Linked DNA regions of Homo sapiens: regions 1 and 3 are each linked to region 2. Evidence: fine-mapped expression QTL. A gene starts in region 2. Each other region holds a variant in brackets. All regions are shown on one strand. Distances are from middle to middle. Region 1 holds the start of LOC105370122 (a long non-coding RNA gene). Region 2 holds the start of SHISA2 (shisa family member 2). Region 3 overlaps ATP8A2 (ATPase phospholipid transporting 8A2).

Region 1 (8,179 bases), 78 kb after region 2:
GGTCTCTCCACACTTACCTCCCTCCATCAAGAGGACACTTCTTCCCATTTTCTCTCCAGGCATTTTCTAAAGATGCTGCACTTCTTCATCGCAGCACTGGGCAAGTAGCTAAGCTCCTGATTAGATTTCTGATACAGCCACAGCACCGTTTTAAAGGTGAACAAGATGCTTAATAATAAATGACATCTGGTATTTAATTTAAAAATTTTCTAATTATTAAACATCGGTCCATAAGAACAATAACAACAACAACAACAACAACAGGCTCTTGGAATTCAACATTCCTAAAATAACAGAGAATCAATTATTTTTAGTTGACACAGGCAGCTTAGGCATTAACTAAATGCTAATGAGGTGTTTCACTTCCTGAAGAGTTTATTTTCCTCCTCCTCTCCTTCCTGTGCCCAGGATGCAAACAGTCACCAGAAGCCCGGCTGGGTCATGCGGGCAGCCTTTCGGTAATTTCCTGCCACATTCACTCCCTTTGTTCCACTAATGCATTTCCTCACCTGTCGCGAGTATTTGTCAGCAAGGCGAGAGCTTTAACTGGCCTTGCCTGGGAGCGTCGTTGGCTCTCCAGCTGTTCTCCTAAGAACTCTCCCCATTGTCTCAACTAAAATGTTTGCCGGCATTAGGCTTTGCCCAAGGTTCTTTGCTCTACAAGATTAAACGCATTCAATTAATTTTTTCATAGACCATACTAGGCTCCACGAAGGTGACTGTGGGTGGAAATTGGCTTCTTTAGCAAGGCTTCTCTTTCCTGAGCCATATCAAAATGTGAGCTGCGGCTGGGCACGGTGGTTCATGCCTGTAATCCTAGCACTTTAGGAGGCCGAGGGCAGGGAAGGGGGGTGGGGGTGGGGGTGGATCACAAGGTCAGGAGTTCAAGACCAGCCTGGCCAAGATGGTGAAACCCCGTCTCTACTAAAAATACAAAAATTAGCTGGGCATGGTGGCGGGTGCCTGTAATCCCAGCTACTCAGGAGGCTGAGGCAGAGAATTGCTTGAACCTGGGAGGCAGAGGTTGCAGCGAGCTGAGGTCGCACCACTGCACTCCAGCCTGGGCGATAGAGCAAGATTCTGTCTCAAAAAACAAACAAACAAACAAACAAAATGAGCCGCTTTCACACACTCTTTTCCCTTTATTTGCTCTGAATTTGTCCGCTGGTTTGGCTTCAGCATTTCTTGGGGGGAGGGTATGATTTCTCTGCTTGGTCCAAGTTCTTCCTACATGTAGGGATCTAAAAGACAACAACATGCAACTACAATTCTCTAGCTTCCTTGGATTTTGCACGCAGCTTCACCAGACAGCAGACTGTGACCCTTTTCATCAGACCATGCTAGAAGGTAAGCACCCCTCCTGGTCTCTCTGGGGGCTCCGTGGCTTTCCAGTCTCTCTAATAAAGATGTAATTGCAAATGCAAGCATTTGGGTGGCTCTCCACATCTTGGCTTGGTGGAAAGAGGCCTGAAGTAAGAAGATGCAGGTTTGCCTCTCTTTAGTTGGGTGACACTGAGCAGACGTGACTCCATCTCTCTGAGGCCTCATCGCCTTTTCTGCACATGAGGAAACTTTCATTTGCTGCATGTGGGGATCAGTGTTATGATAAAAAAATAAAGTGGAGCATAATGAATAAGTCCATGGCATTAAAAACCAGGAAGACAGGTCTCAGCATGGCGGCACATCCCTGTAATCCCAGCTACTTGGGAGGCTGAGGCAGGAAGATGGAGTGAGCCCAGAAGTCAAGCCCAGCTTGGGCAACATAATGGGACTCTGTATCTTAAAAACAAAACAAAACAAAACAAAAAAACAAGAGAAAGTTCTCCAGATTCAGAGGAACTTGAGGAACACAGAAACCAAATGCTATGTGTGAACCTTGCCCAGATCCTAACACAAATCAATCAATCCTAAAAGGCAGGGCTGAGGCATCCAGAGAGTCTTTTTATGGACGGGTTGTTTGACTGATACCAAGGAATTATTATTAACTTGTTAGATGTGATCATGGGGACTGGAGTTCTACATTTAATAACATAAACAAGCATGCTGTGTATCACAGATGTTATAAAGTCTCGTGGAATATTTAGAGATGCCTCCTAAAGCATAGGTGGACTGTCGTGATGCCTGGGATTTGCTTTATGTTTCAGGAAAGAAAGACTCTGAGCAGAAGGGGTGAGATGAAGCAGTTCTGGCCGAATCTTGATAATGATTGGACCTGGGCAATGATTTCATAAGAGCTTATTGTGCTCATCTCCCTACTACTATGTATGCTTGAATATTTGAATAATGAAAATAAAACTTCTTTTTTTTTTTTCGAGATGGAGTCTCACTCTGTCCCCCAGGCTGGAGTGCAGTGGCGCGATCTCGGCTCACCGCAAGCTCCGCCTCTCGGGTTCACGCCATTCTCCTGCCTCAGCCTCCTGAGTAGCTGGGACTACAGGTGCCCGCCACCACACCCGGCTAATTTTTTTTTTTGTATTTTTAGTAGAGACGGGATTTCACTGTGTTAGCCAGGATGGATGGTCTCCATCTCCTGACCTCGTGACCTGCCCGCCTTGGCCTCCCAAAGTGCTGGGATTACAGGCGTGAGCCACCGCAACCGGTCGAAAATAAAACTTTTAAAATGAGTGTTTTAAGGGAAGCTCAGGCTGCCATCAGCACAGCAGGGAAGTTGGTGACATCAGAGAGTGTGTCCTGAGGTGGACGGCATTTGTTCCCAGGACAAGGCCTGTCCTGCTGCCCCTGAGTAGCCCACGTGTGGCCCAGTGCTTGGGACACAGTGCAACACCATCGTATAAAACCAGTCAATCAAGAAGAGCCAAGGGTAGCACCAACCACAGAAGGGCACAGCGTGGGGAGGACAGGGGAGGTGGAAGCTGAGGGTCGCACACGTGAGAAGAGAAGCAGAGGCGGAAATCACTGTGGTTCTGGTCTGCACTGGCTCAGCAGGTGGTGGGCTGAGGGCAGAAGGTGGCATGATGAGGCTGTGCTTCACAAAGGATGTCTTCAGCTGTGGGATGGTGGGTGAAGAGGGACAGGCACCACCCCAAGGGACCAGGGGGGATGACTGTGCAGATGCTGGGAAGACGCCGAGACCTGGCACCCAGGGATGCGCAGGACATGAGGGGACAGTGTGGACACTGAGAGCGAGTCTGCAGTGTGGGAAAAATTCATCCCGATGGAGCAGGAGACTCCGAAGGAAGGGCTGGTTCTGGGGAGGAGTGGCAAGGACCGGCATAGACGTTACAGACAGACTGCAGCTCAGATGGACAGGGGTAAGCTGGCGAGAGATCCTGGGGCAGAAGGGACAGCCTGGACTGGGTACACTGTCCTCTTCACAAAGAGGAGCTCCTTGAAGCTGTAATCCAAAGGCTGTCTTGAGGAGACCACCAAGATTCAGAACTCACTACAGTCCCCACCACACCCCCATCCAACATTCACTACGGCCATTCGTCCACACCACTCCCATGTCCCTGGGATTCTGTTAGATTTCTCCCTTTTACCTCAGACTAGGGGGCACACCCCGACGATGCAACTCGGAGAGCCTGCTGCATTCACATCTTCCCCAGGCTTACATGTTAGA[T/C]GGTAAACACGGCCAGTGAAATGTACTTGTTATGCAGCTTTTCAGTTAGGGGACGCTTCCTGAACATCTACATAGGCTATAGATTTAATCTGCATTATTTATTTAAACCTCAAAGCGAATGTATGATGAGAAAACTGAAGTTCAGAGAAGTTAATAACCCAGCCAAGGCCACACAGCTAAGCTAGAGCCCAGCTCAGGTCATCTGTCTCCGCCGTCTGCACTCGCTTCTCTGCTTCATGACAGAGCTGAGGAAAAAAAATGCAGCTGGAAGGAAAATAAATCTCAACCAGGTGCTGGAAGCAGACATTTGCCACCTGGCCTGGAGAGGTTTGCTGAAAGGATGCCCTAATTTCCTATCCTTTTGGCTGGAAAAAAAGCCAATAATAGGTATTTTAGGAGGAAAGTGTGGGAGAGGTGGGACAAAAGCAAAAGGGAGATGCACCACATGTGCACTGCCAACGGCCAGTACTGTGAAAAAACCGATTTCCTGAAGTGACGCAGTCATTGTTGGAGTCCGGTGCAAAAGGCCTGCATCCCTCCTGCCTCAGGCTGGCTCAGCGACATGCTCAGCCTGGCAGTGGGACTGATTTTGACTTAGAGGTGTGATGATACTAAACAGTTTTTTCAACACTGTTTTAAAGATCAAAGGATTTCCGTTAAAGATCAAAGCATGACAGGTATTTTTGAGTTGAGTACTCACTCAGAATGCATTCGGGAGTTTGTGTTGTTTCATTTTTTTAATACGACTGGTTTTCAAAGGAGCACTCGAGAGCACTGCCTGGAGTGGAGGAACAATCTTTGGTTTGTCTGAAATCTTGCTGCTGTGGTTCAGGCTCTGTTCCTATTTTTCGGCAGAGAGAGCTCCATTAGGATCCCAGGCCACCTGTCCAAGGCTGTGACCAGGGCCCTGCCTGTTTAGAGGCAGCCTGGATGAAATGGAAGCCGCAGAGCAAGAGTCAGGTTTCCCTCCTGAATTCCCTGGCGGTGATGGGCCGTCCAGATTACCCCGGGTCACAGGGCCACGCACAGATGTTCACAGAACACAAAACCGAAGGGAGACGAGGCGACGGCTCGCCAGAAGGTTTAAGACCAGCCACACAGCTACCTTCACCAAAGTCACAGCGTAAGCTACACCCAGGGAAAGCACTTAAGGGGAAGATAATCCACTGCCTTCCTGGCAAAGGCAGGGGCAGCAACCGGGTCTGTTTACCCTTGACAATGGAGAATATCAGCCCTGGGCTCACCCCACCCCACCCCACTCCCACCAACTGGGATGAACAGAGTGAAAGGTGATCTAGAAATAGAACAAGCTCTCCTTGTTTATTCAGGCTATGCATAACTCAAAAACTAGATGTTTTCAACAAATATATTCCCCCTTTTTTTTCTTGCTTGCCATTGTACCTAAAATATTACAGGGCAACCACTTATCTCATTCCAAAAAAAATTAAGGAACAAAAGTCTGTCATCTTACACGCCGTCATCGGTTTATATTGTATCTGTAAAAGTGAGTGGCCACAGATAGATTTTCTTTCACCAGGAAAGAAATTTGCATGGCTTACACTTCAGGAATAAAGAAAGGAAAGATATTACCAAGACATTAAAAAACAAAGAATTTTCTTCCATTTAGCTCCTCATTGTTTAGACACTCAAAATAACGACATGCAGGGTAGACTATTTCATGTGCGGTGCGGGGGGGTTCCTGCTTCCCCAGGTAGGGATTACTGGGAAGACAGTTTGGGAAAAGGTATTCTGATCAACCCCAACAGTCACACGTGTCCAGTGTCTATAAGGCGCACAAACACCACATCGTGAAAAACACTCCTTCAAGAAGAACAAACTAAAATCAAGACAAACATTTTATTCACTCCCTAAAGCACTTTCTTCACTGTGCTTTCTGGATATCTAATTCCCTGATCTCACCCTTTCTCATTATCTGCTTCTTCATGAGAACAGGCTTATTAAAGTATCAATTCCACAGGTTGATTTTGGAAGACAAGATCTACTAATGAGAAAGTGCAGAAGCATGTTCATGAAAATTTAACTTTATCAAAATAGTATAAAAGTATGAGGCTTAGACAAGTTCAATAAAATGTTGGATGAAAATATTTTATTGAATGAATAAAAGGCACAGAGAGAAACTTAGAATCCCTGGCTACCATTTCAAAATTGTAATTGTAAATTTGGTACAAGAGGGTTTTCTAAAAAGATTAATGCATACAGATTTTTTTTGTTCTACTTCCTGTGGTTACATTCCTAAGAAAAACTGCTAGAATATTTGCCAGTGACTTGGACCTGGGTTTTATGACCTGGCAGAATGTCCTTTAAGGGGCCCTAAGCAATGCTGTCAGGACTGAGCTGAGTAAGCCCCTGGGGTTAGGGATGCTGAGGACCCCTGGGGGTGCCCTGGCTTGGCTGGCACAGGAAGGCAGGAGAGGGAGTGGGTTTCAGGGAGGATGGGCTCCTGGCCTGTGCATCTTTGCAAGGGTAAGATTTGCTAATCTTACATCACAGATGCCTCTCCATGTGTGAGTCTATGTTAGCTGTACTCTCAAGCAATGAGATAAACTGCCCCCTCCCTGGAGGCCCGGTGACTGTCAGCATCTCTCTGTGGCCACTTTGTGCACATCCGACACACGAGCTGACACACAGGCACCAGTGTGTCAGCTCATCTGGCACTGAAGTCACCGTCCTTTCCTCACTACCACCTCACTAGACTTTGGTATTGCCAGTCAGTCAGCCAGCAAATATTGACAGAGTTTCCTGTGCGGTTAACAGCTAGAGAGATACACAAATCAGCTGAAAGATCAGATGAGGGTAGGAAAGAAGGAACAGGGAGGGGTGAGAAGAGACAAAAACACTCAGGACCCCTCAAAGAGGTGGGGGTCTATAAGATCTTTAGAAGGGAGGACAGAGCTGAAGACAGACTTCTTAGTCTCTACCCTCCACCCCTCAGGAATCTAAGCAGGTGTGAAAGAAGAAAACAAAGGTTGTAAGAGAACAATTGTGAGGCAGCTTAGGAGGCCAAGCAGGACAGCATAGACTCTGTGCAGAGAGCAGCACGCCACCATTATCCAGTTTGCAGATGGACCACCCAGAAAATCTGTGAGTAATTAGGAGTGAGAAAAACAAATGGGAGGGGGTCACTGAGGAGGATGAGCGGCAGAGCCCCCAAACTGTGTTCTGGCTAGGAATTCCAAAGTGAAGCAAGATGCTGGGACTAGAAGAAAAGGAAAATGGTGCAACCAAACGGGAGTATGCAGGCCCACCCGTGCATGTGTGCGCGCACACGTGCACAGAAACACACACACACACCCCATCATATGAACTACAAAGTGAAATTTACAAGGAACCAGAAAATAAGACTTTCAAATGTAGACGGTAGGAAACCGCATTTAAGCTCTTATTTTCTGATATCCATTTGAACATTTAAAAATGAATTTTGAACAGGATAAGTGAATTTTAAAAATAACATTCATTTATCAACAACAAGCAAAAATGGGCTCACACACTCTTTCAAGGCTGACAGCCCACGACTTCCTTCAATACAATTCAAGGCCGACAGCTCATGACTCTCCTGCCAAAGTGAAGATGAGCAGCTGACCTTTTACACACCTGAGATGGGTCAGGCAATATGCTGCGTTGTACATATTTCACGAACCTTAATCCCCCAAAGAAAATATTAGCCTTCTTCTATGACAGATGAAGAGACAATCTGATCATATGAAATATCCTGCACAAGGCCTCACCGGTAGGTAGCAAAGCCAGAATTCAAACGCAGGTTCTGTATCTCTGCAAAATGCATGTGGCCCTCCAAACTGGGTGGTTGGTCCCTGCACACAGTGTTGGACCTGAGCCTTGGCATGTGCCACTCCCTCTGCCCAAATCAGACTCTCAGCAGTTCTGTCCATTCAAGACCCTCCCATCCTCAAAAGCCTGTTGTTCATCCATCTCCAACATGAAGCCTTTCTTGATTGCTCAAGCCAGATGACCCCTCCCCACATCAGAACAAACACTCTAAAGCACATTCTCACACCACATTATATGTGATGTCGTCCTGTAAAATGTTTGAGAGGAGTTTGAGAGTTTTGCTCTGAAATTCTCATTTTACTTAGAAATTACTTATGCCCCCTCAGCAATCATTGTGTATACTTGATATATAAGGGAGCCTGTAAGTTGTTTCTAAGTATAATAAACTTATTGTCCTTACTAAACTTAACGGTTAAGAGTGATATGCATTTTATAGGGTTTTAAACATTTATTAATTTCATTATGCAATGTTTCCTGCTCCCTAATTTTTGGAGCTTATGAATATGTTTTTTTTCAGGTCTCAAAGAGCACGGTAGGTCCCTGAAACTCTAACAGGTCCTGAGCCTTATGCCTCAGCTGTCTGATGGATAGAACAGCCCTGAACAAGCCTCAACCACGCGTAGTGGTTATATGTACATCTGCGGTAAAATCAGCCCCCATCCCCATGTATTCACAAACTTAAGCTTATGGAAGACAGTGCTTTTTGTCTTGTTGACTGATGATTTTTTACAGTGGCTAGCATAGCTGCTATAAAATGAATGCTTAATAAACTTACTAAAAAATAACTCATAA
Region 2 (8,179 bases):
CTACATATGTTTTCATCTCTTTGGGGTTACCTAGGAGTGGACCTGCAGGGTCATATGGTTATTCTATGTCTGACTTTTTGAGGAACTGTCAAGCTGTTTTGCACAGTGGCTGAACCATTCTACATTCCCATCAATGACAGCATTCAAGGGATCTGATTTCCCCACAACCTTACCAACATTATTTCCCATTATCATTATCATTACTATTATTGTCAACCTAGTGAAAGTCAAGTGGTATCTTGTGCTTTTGATTTGCATTTCTCTAACGTCTAATGATGTTGAAGGTGTTTTCATGTGCTTGTTGGCCTTTTGTAGATCTTATTTGGAGAAATGTTTATTCAAGCCAGTTTTTTGGTTGGGTTGTCTTTTTGTTCTGGGTTGTAAGAGTTCTCTTATATTCTGGATATTAGACTCTTTTCGTATATATGATTTGCAAGTCTTCGCACATTTTGCTTTTGTTTATGCCATTCTTTTAGATAGGAAGGCATTAGTGAAATAAGCCCTCCGTGAAACTCCATATCTCCAAAATGGAAATATATCCATAGTAAACATCAAAATCAAAATTAAAGGGGGTTCAGTAAAACAATGGAGTAAGGAGGGGGGATGAGAGAGAACTATGTCAATAGTTTATAATGACAAATGAGAAGAAATATAATTGAAAATATGGAAATTACTTTTCTGGAAGTCAGTATGTCAATTACAATAAAAATAAGGAGGGTGAAAAATTAAAACTTTTAAAGCAAGAACAATTTTTTTTCATAAATTTATGAACATTTTTGAACATAAGTTTAGGTAAACAGAAGACAAAATTAAAATAAATGTAAATTAATATATTTGTTTGGGTTTTCACAAAAACACTCTAACTTAAAAGAACTTTTGGTAAACCAAATGCCAATTTTCAGTACTATTTCTATTTATGAGAGAAGAGGAGAAAAAAAAATGAATGAACCCAGTGAAAGCCATTCTCCCTAAACAGACTGCTGATGGATGTGCAGATGGTAAGAACCTTCTGCTCTTGCTGAAACTTGCAGAAAAACACTGTAGATCTTGCAGCTTTTAGAACTGCCAGCCAAATGAAATATTATTACCTCCATCTGATTTGTATCAACTCCAGTTAGTAAAGTTGTAAGTAATCATTTCTTTAGTTATATGACTTGCTATTTGTACTAGTGAAGATATGTCAGAAGTTTGCTTTTAAATCAATTGGATTTTATTCATATATATATTTATATATATATGCACAGGCACATACTGAAAGGCAAAATAACTTGAAAATATACTTTTTCAGTTAGTGACTATAGAATTCAACTTTTTTAAAAAGAGGGCTGCACTCTTTCATATGTTTTTCAATATATTTTGGCAGACTGCCTAACATTTCATTTTGATTATCATAAATTATGATTACTACTACCTATATGTTGTAATTACTAGTTATAGCTTCTCAGAAGAAACGAGTGAAATAGTTTTGGTTGTCTGTTAAGACCAATGAGGGAATTTCTTTTTATTTCCTATGGAAGGAACAAGCCTATTTTAATATCTCCCAGTGGCACCTCCCATGCAGAACCTCACTAAATACTTGGCAAGTTATTTTATAAAATTTCAGTTCAACATTCCAGATACACAAAGAAACGATAATACAAGAGAGACAAAGTGACATAAAGGACCTTTCAGCATTGAAGACAGTCAACCACTACGTAAAGTAACTATGAAAGGGCCTCTCCTTAACTTTTAAGGAAGAAAAGAAACACAGTAATTAAAAAAAAAAAAAAAGACGAATTTGCTCAGAGCGCCATACTTCTAAGTTCACCAATTATAGATTAAATTGTAGACTATTTGGCAAAAACATTGTGTTTTAAAGGTGGCACTATCCAGTCACCAAATCAATTCCAATATGAAATGTTAAACAATTTTTTTTCTTCATAAATAAACTCTGACAAATTGTGGATGTTTTGGTGAGTAGGATAAGTGGATCCTGGAAGGAGGTTATAGGCATAGGTACTGTCTGAAATAATACAATTCTAAATAGAACAATAAGTACAATTCTCTCGCATTAATTGTTTTTCCAAATGGCAAAATTGAAAGTATTCACCCTCTGAACACTACCCAAATCAACTCGTGCTGCCATAGGAGCATCTCATGATCTGTACAGGACTCCCAGTTAATCAATCCTGGGCTTTCTGTAGTGGCGGCTGTGGTGATCAGCAGTGCGGTGAGTGGGGTTTGGAGTCAGGAAGAATTGGGTGCAGTCCAGGCAAACCGACGCTCTCTATCTTTAGGGATTGAGCAAGTATCCTCACCAGTAAAATGAGGATAGTAATACTGTCTTATTTATAGGGCTGATGTGAGGATTAAATGAAACCATGCACATGAAATTCTTAGCGTGGTGCCTAGCCCATAGTAAGCTCTCAATAAATGTTGGCTAATGGTGTCTTCTAAGAAAATGACTCATTCTGAAAAACTCAATCTTCCCTTGGCTTCTTCTGGTCTCTTTTTAAGTGTTACTCCTTTGATGATTTTTCTGACCTCCTTCCCCACCCTAACCTAGATTATGTGCTTAAATTGATGCTGTTCTCATTGTGGGTAAGAGCTTTGATCATACTTGCATTCTCTTTGCTTATTCAGTTCTTTGTCTTTTTGTCTGATTTCTGTATTTTACCCTGGAGACTTTAGGCCCTATTTGAAGGAAATGGCCATGCTGTCTGGCTTCTTGATGAGTCCCAGTACCCAGCACAGAGCACAGTACACTGTAAGTGCATGGCGTGTATTTCTTGAATGAATGATTTCTTGACATTGAAATTTTTTTTAGCTTACTAGCTTAAGACATTTGGTGAATAGTGCATTTAAAGTATATAATTTTGTGTAGCTTAAAACGATACACAACCAAAAAACTGCAAGAAAACAAAGTGCAATGCTTGGAGAGAGGTTTAGTGAAAAGAATAAGGTGTGTGTTGGGGAGCAGGGACATAGGGTAGGGTTTTTTTTCTTGGATTTGACATTGTTGGGGCAAGTGGAAGAATAATCAACAATGTCTGAATCTTCACATTAACCAGGCATACACAAGCATCCAATGGCTGCTTGAACCTGAGTGTCTTTGCTGTGAATAAAACTGCCTGTGTTCTGAAGTCATGGACTTGAAAGGGACCTTAGTGATCGTCACATCCTATGCTCCACTTTATAGATGAAGAAACTGAGACCAGAAAAACGCAGTGATTCCCTGCTAGTAGGGCTGGGTCTAGAATTCAGGTCTGCTGACTCCCAGACGGTGTGGGAAGGGGCATTCGTTCCTTTAAAAATAAGCACTGCTGCTTTAATAACATCAGCACCTGTTGTTCCAGCTTCTGCAAGAGAGAAGCTATTAATTTCTCCTTCATCAAAGCTGAATTTCTGGTCTGTCTGAACCTTGTTTTCTTCCTGACTGCAGCTGTCTAAACCACTAAGGCCACATGTTGGACGGAGGCACTTTCCTGCTGGAATCCGATAAATCACCACACCCAAATATAGAAAGAAAAAGGGACACAGATCATCCACACCGTGGCCGAATGTGTGACATCTTTGCTGAACTCTCTCCGTTCCACCTTGTGGTGGAGGCCTCCAGTCCACCAAACACAGCCCTAGGCGTGTGAACCCTGCCACAAACATCGGTGCTCTTCCTGCACAGGGCCTGGGACCAACCGTGGCCAGGACATCAGCTGCTGGAAGCCGAGAGAGTTCATCTGAGTGGCGATTTTATGATCTGCAGAGTGGAAAGTAATCATAATCCCTTGAGAAGTTTGCAGAATCGAACCGAATGTTGAATGCCAAAGATCTTCACAAAGCAAGTTGAGTTTCTTCCGTTATTATTGTTATTTGTGTTAGCGAGGCCTGGATTGCTTAGGTTGGGTTTCCTCCCGCGCCTATTCCAGCAGGCAGACCCCGCCCTTGGCCACACCTTTCTCCTTGCCCGGGGTAGGAAAGTGAGGGGCTGCCCGGCGCCCGCGGGCGTCCCTGAGGTCGGGGGTGGGGGGGAGCCGCGCAGCGCGCATGCGCGCCGGGGAGCCGCCGGCCTCTATAAGAGCGCGGCTCAGCGCGGCAGCGAGCGGAGTCGGAGCTGGTCTGGCGCCGGGCGGGGCGAGGCGAGGCTGTGGGCGGCTGCTGCGCTCGGCTTCTCCCGTAGCCCGGAGGAAAGAAACTTCCGTGGGAGGCTTCCATCGGTGCGCACACCTCCCGAGGGCGAGGCAGCGACCGGGAGAGGGAGAGCCGGCCGGAGGCTGCCGGGCTCCTGTGGGACCGCGCTGCAGCCGGGGAGGCGGAGAAGGGGAACCGGGGCGAGCCGCCCGCCTGGATCCGCGCCCAGCAGCAGCCGCGGCCGCCGCCAGCTGGGCAGGCTCCCGGGACTGCGGCTGGGGGCGCGCAGGACCCTCGCCTGCGTCCTGGACGTTCCCGGGGTCAGGAGCGCTCCCTCGGCGACGTGCTGGGAAGATTGGCCGTCGGCCCCGCCGAGTGGAGCGTCGGGGCTGCACCCCCGTGGGCTGCCCGGGCGGCCCGGCCGGAGCCATGCGGACCAAGTTCGGGGCAGAGGAGGCTGAGCGCGGCCGGCTGCGTCACTTGCTGCCCAGAGCCTTGCGTGCACTGCCCGCCTTCGCCCCTTCTACCCGCCCGAGGAGGGAATAAAGGAGGGGAGACGGGCCCTGATTCGCGCGCGGGACCCTGAGGCTTAAACCCTGCGCAGAGCCCTGGCTCCAGGTCCGCGGCGGCGCGCCCAGCGGTCATTCGGCTCGAGTGAGCATCCCTTCGGGGATGCTCAGGGAGGGTCCGGTTGCCAGTGAAACCTCCAGAGGCTTCCGGACGACAGCCCCGGGGGCCTTCTGACTGCATCCCGAGATTTCCATCAGCGAGTGCAACTCATAAGGCAGTCCCTAAGGGGACCGGGCCACCGGCTGAGGACGGGGATGGCTTAGGAGCTCCTGGACCTAGGGCCCGGCGTCGTCGCCTCCTGGGCGTCGCGGCAGAGGGGAGTGGCCCGCGCGGAAAGCGCCGCGGGACAGTCAGTGACGAGGCCCGGGGGTCGCCGGGGCCACGACTTCTCGGAGACCGTCCTGCGCTCTCTGGAGACGCGCTGTCCGCGCCCAGGGTGGTGCCATGTGGGGCGCTCGCCGCTCGTCCGTCTCCTCATCCTGGAACGCCGCTTCGCTCCTGCAGCTGCTGCTGGCTGCGCTGCTGGCGGCGGGGGCGAGGGCCAGCGGCGAGTACTGCCACGGCTGGCTGGACGCGCAGGGCGTCTGGCGCATCGGCTTCCAGTGTCCCGAGCGCTTCGACGGCGGCGACGCCACCATCTGCTGCGGCAGCTGCGCGTTGCGCTACTGCTGCTCCAGCGCCGAGGCGCGCCTGGACCAGGGCGGCTGCGACAATGACCGCCAGCAGGGCGCTGGCGAGCCTGGCCGGGCGGACAAAGACGGCCCCGACGGCTCGGCAGGTAGGGCGGCCTGCGCCCAGCGCGAAAGGGAGGACGGTTGGCGTTGCCTGGACGTCAGGGACCTGGGAGTTTGAAGGGGGGAAATTCAGGAAAGGGCCTAGGACCAGGAGGCGGAGTCTGCCTTCTGGCTTATTATTTGGTCGGTGTGGGTCCCTAATTCACCCTCACGGGCCTCAGTTTCTCCATCTGTCAGCCAAAGGGTGGCTTAGAGTTAATTTTCCGAACAAAATCACACTCCTAAGGCAGTGTGGGCCACAGACAGCCCCCATATTCCTTCTGACCAGGGTCCTCCGGGCCCCTCTGGCGTCTCCTGTCTCCATAGGGCTTCATGTCTTAGGGGTACCCAAGGAGACGGCGAGGGTGCGCCCCCACCCGTGAGGGCCTGGCAGCGGTGCTCCCCTGAAGGCTCCCCGAAAGGAAGGCAGCTCCTCAGGGCTTTCCCGGGGCTGCTGCCCCGTGCCAGACGCCGCGGATTCCCATCTTCTCCACGCGGCGGCCCCTCTCCCCTGCAGCGGCCCGCCTGTGGGGCTTCTGGACTGTTTTCCTTACCACGTCAGACTTAGTAGGTGTAACATCGGAGCAGTGCCCAGCCTTGCTCTTTGTGGCTTTGATTTTTTTTTTCTTTCAAATTGCCAAAGCCAGAGTTGGAAAGTAAACCCGTGAAAGAATTTGGTAGGTTGCACTTCACTCTTCAGAAACCTTCCGGAATGCCTCCCTGGGGTGTCTACACCAGTCACTCCGTGTGTGTGTGTGTGTGTGTGTGTGTGTGTGTGTGTGTTATTTATTTCGGGGGAGGGGAGGTGTAGAGGTAAAATGGCAAACGTGTCCCCGAGGGGGCGGCTCCTCCTCTTTGTGGGCCCGTTGTGTTTACCTGGGAGGCTTTTCGCTAGCATCCTGAGCCTGGGTTCGGGCTGCTTGAGCTTTGGCACAGCGTAGTTTGTGTTTATAGAGCTGCCTCCCAGGACCTCGTGAGAGACAGCTCTTTTCAGTGCCGTTCCCTTTCGCAGTCAAGCATTTTATTAGCATGCTACTCCTATTGTTCTGCTGTCTTGAATCTGAAGAGAGCGTAATTCCAGAACCAGCGCAGTCTTAAAACGCAAGCTCAGTCTCGCAGACTGTGTGGCCATGGAAGAAAGCCCAGAGAAGGGAGCCAGACCCCGAACTGCTACAGTGAGATGTCTGCTAGATTGGGCTCATTAATGGTCTCCAAAAAGTTGGGATGGCTTTGGATTAGTCGGGACTTCTCAGGACGAGACTTCTCATGACGCCCTGTGTTGTGCATGGATGCCTTCTTCATGCTACTTTTAAACGTTTTTTTCCTAAAAATTGTATTTCTTTCACTTTTCTTCTGCAGTGAAGGGCAACATGCCTAATTAAGCCTGCCGGGGGGCTTATAGTAGCGTTACATTCCTTATCCCTGTGTAGTTATTTACATTTCCAATTAAAAATCCTGGAAAGAGAACACTTATTTCTCCCCAAAACTCATTATGTGGACTGAGGCTGGTTTCAGCTAGTTTCTGCTATGATTGGGGTACATTTTTTTTCCTGCTTTACTACTATTAATTTATTTTTTGATAACATATTTAGGGCTGGTGTCTTAATTTAGAGAATGAAATATTTATAACACGCCAAGGAAAAAGCCTGCATCCACTTCTCCAGTGATCCGTAGTTAGCCTGAAGTGATAGTGTAATTAGGACAGTTCTACTGCTGGGCGCCAGCTGTGCTGCAGACACTGTAGCAAATGTTTCTACCTGCTAAAGGGGCGCTATATATAGAAATTGCTCTGTTCAGCATTGAAACTCCAGGAAATATTCCACAGTCAGCCTTTGGTTAAATACCTATAAAGTATTGTTTTACTTACAGGGCATTATTTCTCCATAATTCCACCTGGTATTATACTTTAAAAACACTGACTCCAGCAATACCAGAACAGTGAAAAGGAGCATAATTAGAAAGCCCGGCTGCTCTAATGGATGATGAAAGGGTATTCATAGAGCTGACCTCAAAGGCGTGGTCTCCTTCCTAAAATGCTGCCCCATCCGACTCTGGGCTGGCATTATGCTTTGCCAAGACCAGTAAGACCCAATCCACCCCTGTGCTTATGTATTTCCCAAAAATATAGCCAGGAGGTTGGGGCAAGAACACATCAGAAAATGCAGGCTCTTGGTAACATAGGGTAGAATTCCACAAAAGTGGCTCAGAGGCATTCTGCAGGCACCTCCCATCTGATTCTGTCCCTGTCAACCTGCGTCTATTTTCTAAAGCCTTGTAGTGCCCTCTCTATGGCTCCTAAAAGATTTTTTTAAGAAACTAATTTTATGTATTTATTTATTTATTTGAGATGGAATCTCAATCTGTTGCCCAGGCTGGAGTACAGTGGCACAATCTCGGCTTACTGCAACTTCTGCCTCCTGGGTTCAAGCGATTCTCCTGCCTCAGCCTCCAGAGTAGCTGGGATTATAGGTGCGCGTCACCACACTCAGCTAAATTTTGTGGTTTTAGTAGAGACAGGGTCTCACCATGTTGGCCAGGCTGGTCTTGAAGTCCTGAGCTCAGGTGATCCACCCACCTTGGCCTCCCAAAGTGCTTGGATTACAGGCGTGAGCCACCGTGCCCCGCCAGAAACTAATTTTAAAATGGAGTTTGCTAGTGGTTTTATCAAAAGGTTTTTATTTTTACTTTTTATGGTTTTCTATTTTAAAATCAGCTTCCCGGGTGAAGTGTGA
Region 3 (8,179 bases), 39 kb after region 2:
GGGAAAGGTATCTTAGCCTTTGGAATAGTCTACTCCCTGTTCAAATGGAAGGTGCAAAAGCCTTTTCTTTTATTTATCTTGTTTTCCATAACATGCCTGTGTCTACTGGAAACCCAACTCCGGGGGTTTCTTCAGCTCATAACTCTGTCACTTCTTCTGTGTGCATTAGTGCCATGGCCACAAGGGCCTCCCATGGGATTGCAGCGGGATGATTTGGCCCCTCTGGGATGGGAAGGGTTTCGAGGTTTCCCTTTGAAGAGACAGGCAGAGAAGAGTTGCCCCTCCTGTTGTAAACCTCCCAGGGTAAGTAGAGCAACGTGAGGTCTGTGCTAAATGTCTCCCACCATCCTCCCTAGTTCCCATTGGCTGCACCTACCACCACATTTCCAGCGTGTTGTACGCTAAGACTTTCTTAACCTTAACCGAGAATGAAAGTGGACTCTACAATTCAAGAGTGAAAGGAGAATGGCCTGATAGGTTTATCTTGGGAGAGGGAGTCCTCCCATGTTCAGATAAAATTTCAGATTAAACATTTTCCTCTTAGAAACCAGGCCTGGCGGGAGTTAGAGCTGTCATGGGAGGAGTTTTACTGGAAAACCAGACACCATCACCCCTCAACCAGTCCTGCCTGCCCAGCCTCTGTCCCACCGGATGAAGATACAGACCTGCTCCCCAGCTCTGCCTAATGAACCTTTAACTGTCATTTGCATCCAAACGGGGAGCTCGGAGGAAGCCTCCAGCTCTTTGCACTCCCTACTTTCACTCATGTTTCAGGAAGTCCTAACAGCCAGAAAAGTCCTGATGGGGGCCTGGAGGGAGCTCTCATGGACCCAACTAACTGAACTTTCCCTGGCTGGCTTCCTAAAGCATCTGCTTTCTTAAACAGCCACAGCCAGAATGGAGAACAGAATCGTGTAGGTGAAAGGAGGTGGGAGGAAAGACGGATTTCTTAGTTGTTTTGTCTTCTCCGGGTAGAACATTTGGTGAAATCCATAAAATTATGTCTTTTTTTTTCATTATTTTGGAATAAAACTCCCCTTAAGTAGCATTCCTTTGAATCTGTGCTCTGATAGCATCTTAATGAAAATAGCAGTTTCCTGTCTGGAAAGATTCCTAATAGCCATAGAAATGAGAAGACCATGGGGACAAAGAGGAAATCAGACTGTGTAGGAAATGCTGATTACAAATATTGTATGTTGGTGGCTCACAGGAACTAAAATACTACCAAGATTAGAGTTTTTCCTGCTAGTTTCCTGGACAGACCCAGGCGGAACATCAAAGGCTGAGACCTGCTATATGCCCATCCTGCACCCCAGGACCAGCTCTGACCACCCGACGATCTTCTCTGGCTGTTAGTGACAGAAACGTCCTAAGTTATCCATCAGGTTCTGGTACTAGTCACTGAATGTTTAAAAAATGTGGTGTGATTTCAGAAGCCTTCTTATTTCTTATATTTATTCAGTAGATTTTTTTTTGGCCTTCAAAATATTGACTTAAGAAAAGCATTTAGTAGTTGTCTTTAAGACATTTATGACTCTCCCATAAAAATTCTCATTCGGTCTTTGATCACAACATATATATCGTGTATATTCTGTCTATGGTTATTTTGAAACATTCATCAGAGAGGCAACACGGCTCAACAGAACAGACCCTGTAGAGTTCTGGGAACCTGTATGTGTTTTCTCTGTGTCTGGCATACAGAAGGTGCTTTACACATGCTGTCATGAAGACTCACAGGACTGTGTAAGATGTATATCATTAAAATTCTTTTTTCTCCACAGGAGAAAATAAAAATTTAGAGAAATTAAGTTTCCCAAAATTATTCAGCTAATGGCAGAATAATAATACCCAACATTTATTGGACCCTATATTGCCTATATAGACACTTTATCTTTATGATCTCATTTAATCCTCCTAATTGAAACCAACCCAATAGTCCCATAGACAGTTTTGTTTTTGTTTTTTTGTTTTTTTAACATAGAAATGACCCTTCTGGTCTTAAAGCTTGACATTTGTATTTGTTTTATCTGAGTTCCTTCCTTAGGTAGGGACCCACAGGCCTCTCGAAAAGTAGCAAAGATCTGAAACTCACCCAATGATCTCATCCAGACAACGAGATGCTAAGCCCCTCATTCATCTTGATTGCTTCCTTACCCCTACTGATTCCTGTTTTCTTACACATTGTTAACATTTCTTCCCTGCTATATAAACCCCTAATTTTAGTCAGTCAAGGATATGGATTTAAGACTAATCTGCCACCTCCTTGGCTATAGCACCAGATAAAGCCTTCTTCCTTGGCTATAATTGTTGTTTCAGTGATTGGCTTTCTGTGCAGCTGTGGGTGGCAGGACCTACACTGAACCTCTGGCATCCAGTAAGTTCTCATATTACCCAACTTTACAGATGCAGAAGCAGACATTAAGTAACATGCCCAAGGTCACGAAAAAGCAGGGGAGCAGGGACAGGAACCCAGGCAGCCCATCTCCAGAGGGCTGCCCTACAGTTAGCACTCCTGTCCCATCAAACTTCTTGACTTACCTCTCTTTTGGGCCAGAGTCTGAGGCTGCAATCCAGACCTCATGGCATGCCACTGAGCAATGCTGGGCCACCCACTTTCTGACCTGAGCCTCTGCTTTGTGTCCTTGGGGTGGCATTACCCACCTCCCAGGGCAGTGGAGCATTAAAGGACAGAAGCATGTCAGTCCCCTTCTTCCCATACGATATTCCACATGGGAAAGTGAGGACAGGGGGTAGATTACTGAAAAGCAATGATACTCTGTCTCCCTCCTTCTCTCTCCATTGAGAAAGTCTGCAAATACCTGTTGACAGGCAGAGCTCAACAGAACACAGATCCTTCACTGCCTGTACTGTGTGAACAATGATTCTTCACGTTCATAAATCTGTCTCTTTCTTTCTTTCTTTTTTTTTTTTTTTGAGACCAAGTTTCGCTCTTGTTGCCCAGGCTGGAGTGCAATGGCATGACCTCGGCTCGCTGCAACCTCCGCTTCCTAGGTTCAAGTGATTCTCCTGCCTCAGCCTCCCAAGTAGCTGGGATTACAGGCATGTGCCGTCACGCCCAGCTAATTTTGTATTTTTAGTAGAGACGAGGTTTCACCATGTCGGTCAGGCTGGTCTCCAACCCCTGACCTCAAGTGATCCACTCACCTCAGCCTCCGAAAGTTCTAGGATTACAGGCGTGAGCCACCGCGTCCGGCCCAACTCATCTCTTTCTACCAGTCGTTTCCCTCTAAACTCCTCCGGAAGGGAAAGGGAGGCAGGGAGTAAGTATGGGAGGAAAAGCTGGCGTGTGCACGTGATGGGGGTGGAGAGGGGGCTGGGGAAGGCCGCAGGACACAGAGAGGCAGGGCTGGGTTGGCCTTGGCCCTGGGGAAGGTGGCCTGGATCTGCCTCAGCTGGGATCTGATGACTGGATTGCTAAAAACAAGCCCATGAGCTCCCCCTGAGCTCCAAAGTCGGGGGCAGTGGAGAGGGGATGTTTCACAGCCTCCCACTCTCCTCTGGAATCTGGAGGTGGGGGCGGGGGTGGCAGGGGGACGCCAGGCTTAGACGTGGGGCAGCCTTCCTGGGAGAAGCATGATGTTTTTCCCCAATGATGGTCATTGTTTCAATCAATATGGCAACACTACACAAAACAGTTCATATTGCTATCTTTAGGGGCAACAGTTTAAAAGTCATACTGCTTCAACCTTAAAAAACTCCTCTTGGGAGGCTGACGGAAGGATCATAACCACACCAGGATTTTAAGTTTACGGATTTTGTGGTCCCAGGGAATTGCCTACACTCAAGCTGCACGTTCCTGGGGCCAAATACACATTTTGCAGTTCCACTTCCAAACGCACGCCCCGCCCCCACCCCCCGTCAGCACTCACCCGGCCCCCCATCAGCGCCCGCTCCCCCAACTCCTCATCAACCCCCGCCCCGCACCGACACCCACTCC[T/G]CCATCAGCCCCCGCCCGCGGTACTCACGCGGGACGCCCTGCTGCAGGGAGCTGCCCCGGAACAGCGTCGGGGGCGTCTTCCGGCCCAGCCTCTTGATCAGGCGGTCGCGCTCGTTCAGCCTGCGGATAAAGCAAGCGCGTCAGTCTCTTGTCACCTGAACACTCGGGTTGCACAAGGAGACAGACAGAAGGGGGTGGGATGAGGTGGGGGATCACCTCCCCACGTCGGGTAAGGCGTGGTGCTTCACCAGCGGCCCGTGATTTCCAGCAGATGCCATCTGGGCGCCTCAATGCTGGCTCCCTGTTGTGGAAAACGCCGTTTCCAGTCCCTCCCTTAGCCAGCGCTTCCTGCTCGCTGAAGTGTGCATGTGCCCGGTCCATACCCGCGGGACCGTGGGCTTTTCAGGACACTTCTCCAAGGAGAGGCCTGTTTCCGGGTAAACATCTCCGCGCCTCACTCCTGCCTGCAGCCCCCTGCCTGCACGGGGTGAGAGCCCCGCGGAGGCCTCAGGACCCCAGCCACAGCCCAGCTTCGTTCTGCAGAACTTGATTATTTTGAACCCCAATGAACATCAAGGCGAGTTTTCTTCTAAAACAGACGGCTAAGGAGCAGTCCCTGCCTTTCCTGAACCTATTCCCTTCAAGGTTGCCACTGCTGTGAAGACATGTGGAACTGTTCTGGAGCTTGGCTATTTCTATACTATTTTATTTTTTTAAAAAGATGGGGTCTCACTGTCGTCCAGACTGGAGTGCAGTGGCACAATCATAGCTCACTGCAGCCTCGAACTCCTGGGCTCAAGCAACTCTCCCACCTCAGCCTCCTGAGTAGCTGGGACCCCAGGTGTGCATCACCACACCTGGCTAATTTTAAACATTTTTTGCAGAGACAGGGCCTTGCTTTGCTGCCCAAGCTGGTCTCAAACTCCTGGCTTCAAGTGATCCTCCTGCCTCGGCCTCCCAAAGTGCTAGGATTACAGGTGTGAGCCACCATGCCCAGTCTGTTTATTTCTATAAGCCCAAAGGGACTGCTTGAAAACTGCCCAGGCAGGTCAAAGTGCTTTGATTTTTACTATCAGGCTCTCATTTCGCTTGTCATTACAGGAGTTTGCCAGTGACCTAGAGGCATAATAGATTATGGGCTGAATGGTGTCCCCTCTAAATTCACATGTTGAAGTCTTTACCCCTAGTACCTCAGAATGGGACTGTATTTGGAAACAGGGCCTTTAAAGTGGTAATTAAGGTGAAATGAGGTCATCAGGGTGGGCCCTAATCCAGCATGGCTGCTGTCCTAATAAGAAGAGGAGATGAGGACACAGGCATACACGGAGGGAAGACCACAGAGCACACAGCCACCTGTAAGCCAAGGAGAGTGCTCGCATGAGAAACCAATCTGTAAGTAGCTCGAGTATGGACTTCCAGCCTCCAGACTGTGACAAACTCAATTTCTGCTGTTTAAGCCACACAGCCTATGGCACTTTATTGCGGCAGCCCAGGCAGACAAATACAGACCCCCCTTACGTTTGTGGGAACGTGAGGGGATACGGAGTTGTAGAAGAAGCTGCAGGTGCTTGAATCCCATGTACCCTGCCCCCGATCGATCAGTGAGCCTGGAGCCTGAGGAGGCCCCTCCCATGACTGCAGACCCACCTAGCTCCCTCAGGGCCATCGAAAGAGGAGTGGGGCCCTGGCTCTTCTTCACAGTTCTTTGAGCTGAAGTTCATTTTGAATTTCCAGGAGAGGGCATTTCTGAGTGCCTTGGTTGAAATAACAATGTTTAATTCATTCCCAATTAAGGGTGAGCCTCAGCTAGCTAAGCTTGGCAAAACGTCTCATGGCTGAGGAAGAAAAATACTTTCTCCATCCTTTCACACTGGTCCTCCCTCCCGTCTCCTCTTTCTTCCATGGGCCAAATTAATCTCACCGGGTCTGGCTGAGCAATTGCCCTGGAAGGCATGGTTGTGCAAACACAGGAGGAGTGAGCCCGTGGCACCTGTCCCTCTGTGTAGCTGCCATCACCGACTGTCCACAGCTCCCTGTGCTGCCTGGTTTCAGAATGTGGCAGGTATAAAGAAGGGCCTGTCCTCCCTGTCCAACACGTGCCCAGCACTGGCCATGACTCCTGCACAAAATAAAGGGCACTGTGTGCAGAGGGGGCCCCTCACCCTGCCTGGCCCCAGGGTAGCCTCACCAGCCAGGCCCCACATGGGGACATAATGGGCAACTGACACATTATTTTCTCAGAAGCTGGAGACCATGCAGGACTAGGCTCTGCCCCCATGCCCCTGGACCACAGGGACATGCCTCCTGAACCACCCTGGCCATCCCAGAAGCTCCTCCTCATGATGGGGCTTATGAGAATGTCACAGATCCTCAGAAATGGGAGGGATCATTGAAATTATACATGTTGGCCTCTCACCAGGCAGGTGAGAAAACAGACTCAGCTGTGTCAAATAACTTGACAAAGGTCAGATGGGGCTTTGCTGGCAGGGCTCCTGTGCTGGCAGACGCCGCCTAGATGCCGCCTAGAGTGGTGAATGCTTTTCTCTGTCTTCTTTTTTTATAATTAATTTTTTTCTTTTTGTTTTTGAGACAGAGTCTTGCTTGTTGCCCAGGCTGGAGTGCAGTGGCGCAATCTCGGCTCACTGCAGCCTCTGCCTACTAGGTTCAAGCGATTCTCCTGCCTCAGCCTCCTGAGTAGCTGGGATTACAGGCACTTGCCACCAGGCCTGGCTAATTTTTGTATTTTTAGTAGCGATGGGGTTTTGCCATGTTGGCCAGACTGGTCTTGAACTCCTGACCTCAGGTGATCCGCCCACTTCAGCCTCCGAAAGTGCTGGCATTACAGGCATGAGCCACTGTGCTCAGCCTATAATGAGATATTATTTAAAAATGTGACTTCTTGCTTCAGAGGGACCCACTCTGTGCCGCAGCCCTTCCTCCACACACTGTGAGGGGTCCACAGCCAAGGAGGTACACCCTCCCATGGCCCAGGCCTGCCATCCACCACCTCAGTTATTTGGGACCCTAGAAGTCCCTGCTCAATGACCACCCAGGCCTCCATCCAAGGCTAACTTGACTCCATCCTGAGCTCCATCCCCCTAAAAGTAGACCATATAGCCAATGTGCACACCCCAGGTCTGTGGGGGTGGCCAAGGGGTGCTTTTTGCATGGGGATGTGAACAGAACCTGGATGTGTGGGCTGGGATGTTCACCACACCACACGTGCGCAGATGCCCTCAGTGCAGGGCAGAGCTGGGGTTCTGAAGCATGGAGAGGGTGTCCAGGGAGTGAGCTCTTTCCCACGCTGCCTTACTCTGGCTAAGGCCTTCAAATAAGCCAGGAATCAGGAAGCGCACCAGGCTTTATGAAGGTGTCATCATGAAGGGACAGAATTCTTTGCTAGCTTGATTTGTAACTTTCACATATTTATGTGTGGTTCAAGGTCTCCACTGGTACTCTTATACCAAGTCCTGCAAATGTCAGGACCAGGCCTAACTATGATTACTTCAGATTTTAATAAAATAATAAAGTCTTAAATATAAATTCCTTATACTCGCCATTCTTCTCCCTTCCATAAAAAAGAAACAGCTTTCCAGTCTATATTTCATACTGTTGCTTCATAGATATGTATGGGTAATTAATATCCAATTATATTTAAAAATACGCATAAATGGTGTCATTTATTTTATGCTTCCTGTTTATCATGTTTTTTGCTTTTATTTTTTGGTTTAGAGGAATACTTTATTATTTATTTCAGTGGTCACCCTTACATTTCTAGCCTTCATATTTGACAAGGTCAAAAGTTAGAAAATAATTTAACCCCCTTCTTCAATAATGCAAACACTTCAGAACACACAACTCTGATTTTTCCATCTCTTCTTGTCTTCAGCACTGAAGGCTACTCAGTTTGCCATTTTTTGCAGGGAATCTGTCTTTTCCTTCTGGTTGCTTTTACAATAATTCCCTTTGTCTTTGATGGGCTGTAGTTTCATGACAATATTTAGTATGACTGGTTATAGGTTTGTTTTTATATCCTGTTCAGCTGCTCAGGTCTGGAAAGCTACAACAGCTTGAATGTTTGTGGATCTTCACTTACAGAAAACACTGAGATTCCTGCCTCCCCTCCGTTCTCTATTTTACCTTCTCCTGGAGCTTCTATCTACAGTATCTCCATATTGATCTCATTCTATCTTCCACATCCCTCAATCTCTCCCATGTTTT

What was found.
Region 1: its variant is fine-mapped to the expression of SHISA2 in whole blood (TOPMed, PIP 0.96).
Region 3: its variant is fine-mapped to the expression of SHISA2 in spinal cord (GTEx, PIP 0.96).

Annotation. Positions count from the first base shown.
Region 1 is chr13:25,969,715-25,977,893 of GRCh38, reverse strand. The region is part of intron 35 of ATP8A2 (ATPase phospholipid transporting 8A2); the gene reads right to left. It overlaps LOC105370122 (a long non-coding RNA gene), which reads left to right and starts at 390. Exons shown (of 3, transcript XR_941764.3): 1 at 390-458; 2 at 1,277-1,347; 3 at 2,145-2,314. RefSeq lists enhancers at 96-1,039, 2,403-2,941, 2,942-3,481. The variant T/C (reference allele first, on the strand shown) is at 3,581.
Region 2 is chr13:26,047,915-26,056,093 of GRCh38, reverse strand. It overlaps SHISA2 (shisa family member 2), which reads left to right and starts at 4,078. Exons shown (of 2, transcript NM_001007538.2): 1 at 4,078-5,452. The coding sequence starts at 5,119. It overlaps LINC00415 (long intergenic non-protein coding RNA 415), which reads left to right. Exons shown (of 2, transcript NR_146971.1): 2 at 3,422-3,818.
Region 3 is chr13:26,008,430-26,016,608 of GRCh38, reverse strand. ATP8A2 (ATPase phospholipid transporting 8A2) reads right to left here. Exons shown (of 37, transcript NM_016529.6): 36 at 3,987-4,078. Among named protein-coding and RNA genes, the nearest start is that of SHISA2, 39 kb to the left of the region's middle. RefSeq lists enhancers at 3,748-4,248, 4,249-4,749. The variant T/G (reference allele first, on the strand shown) is at 3,959.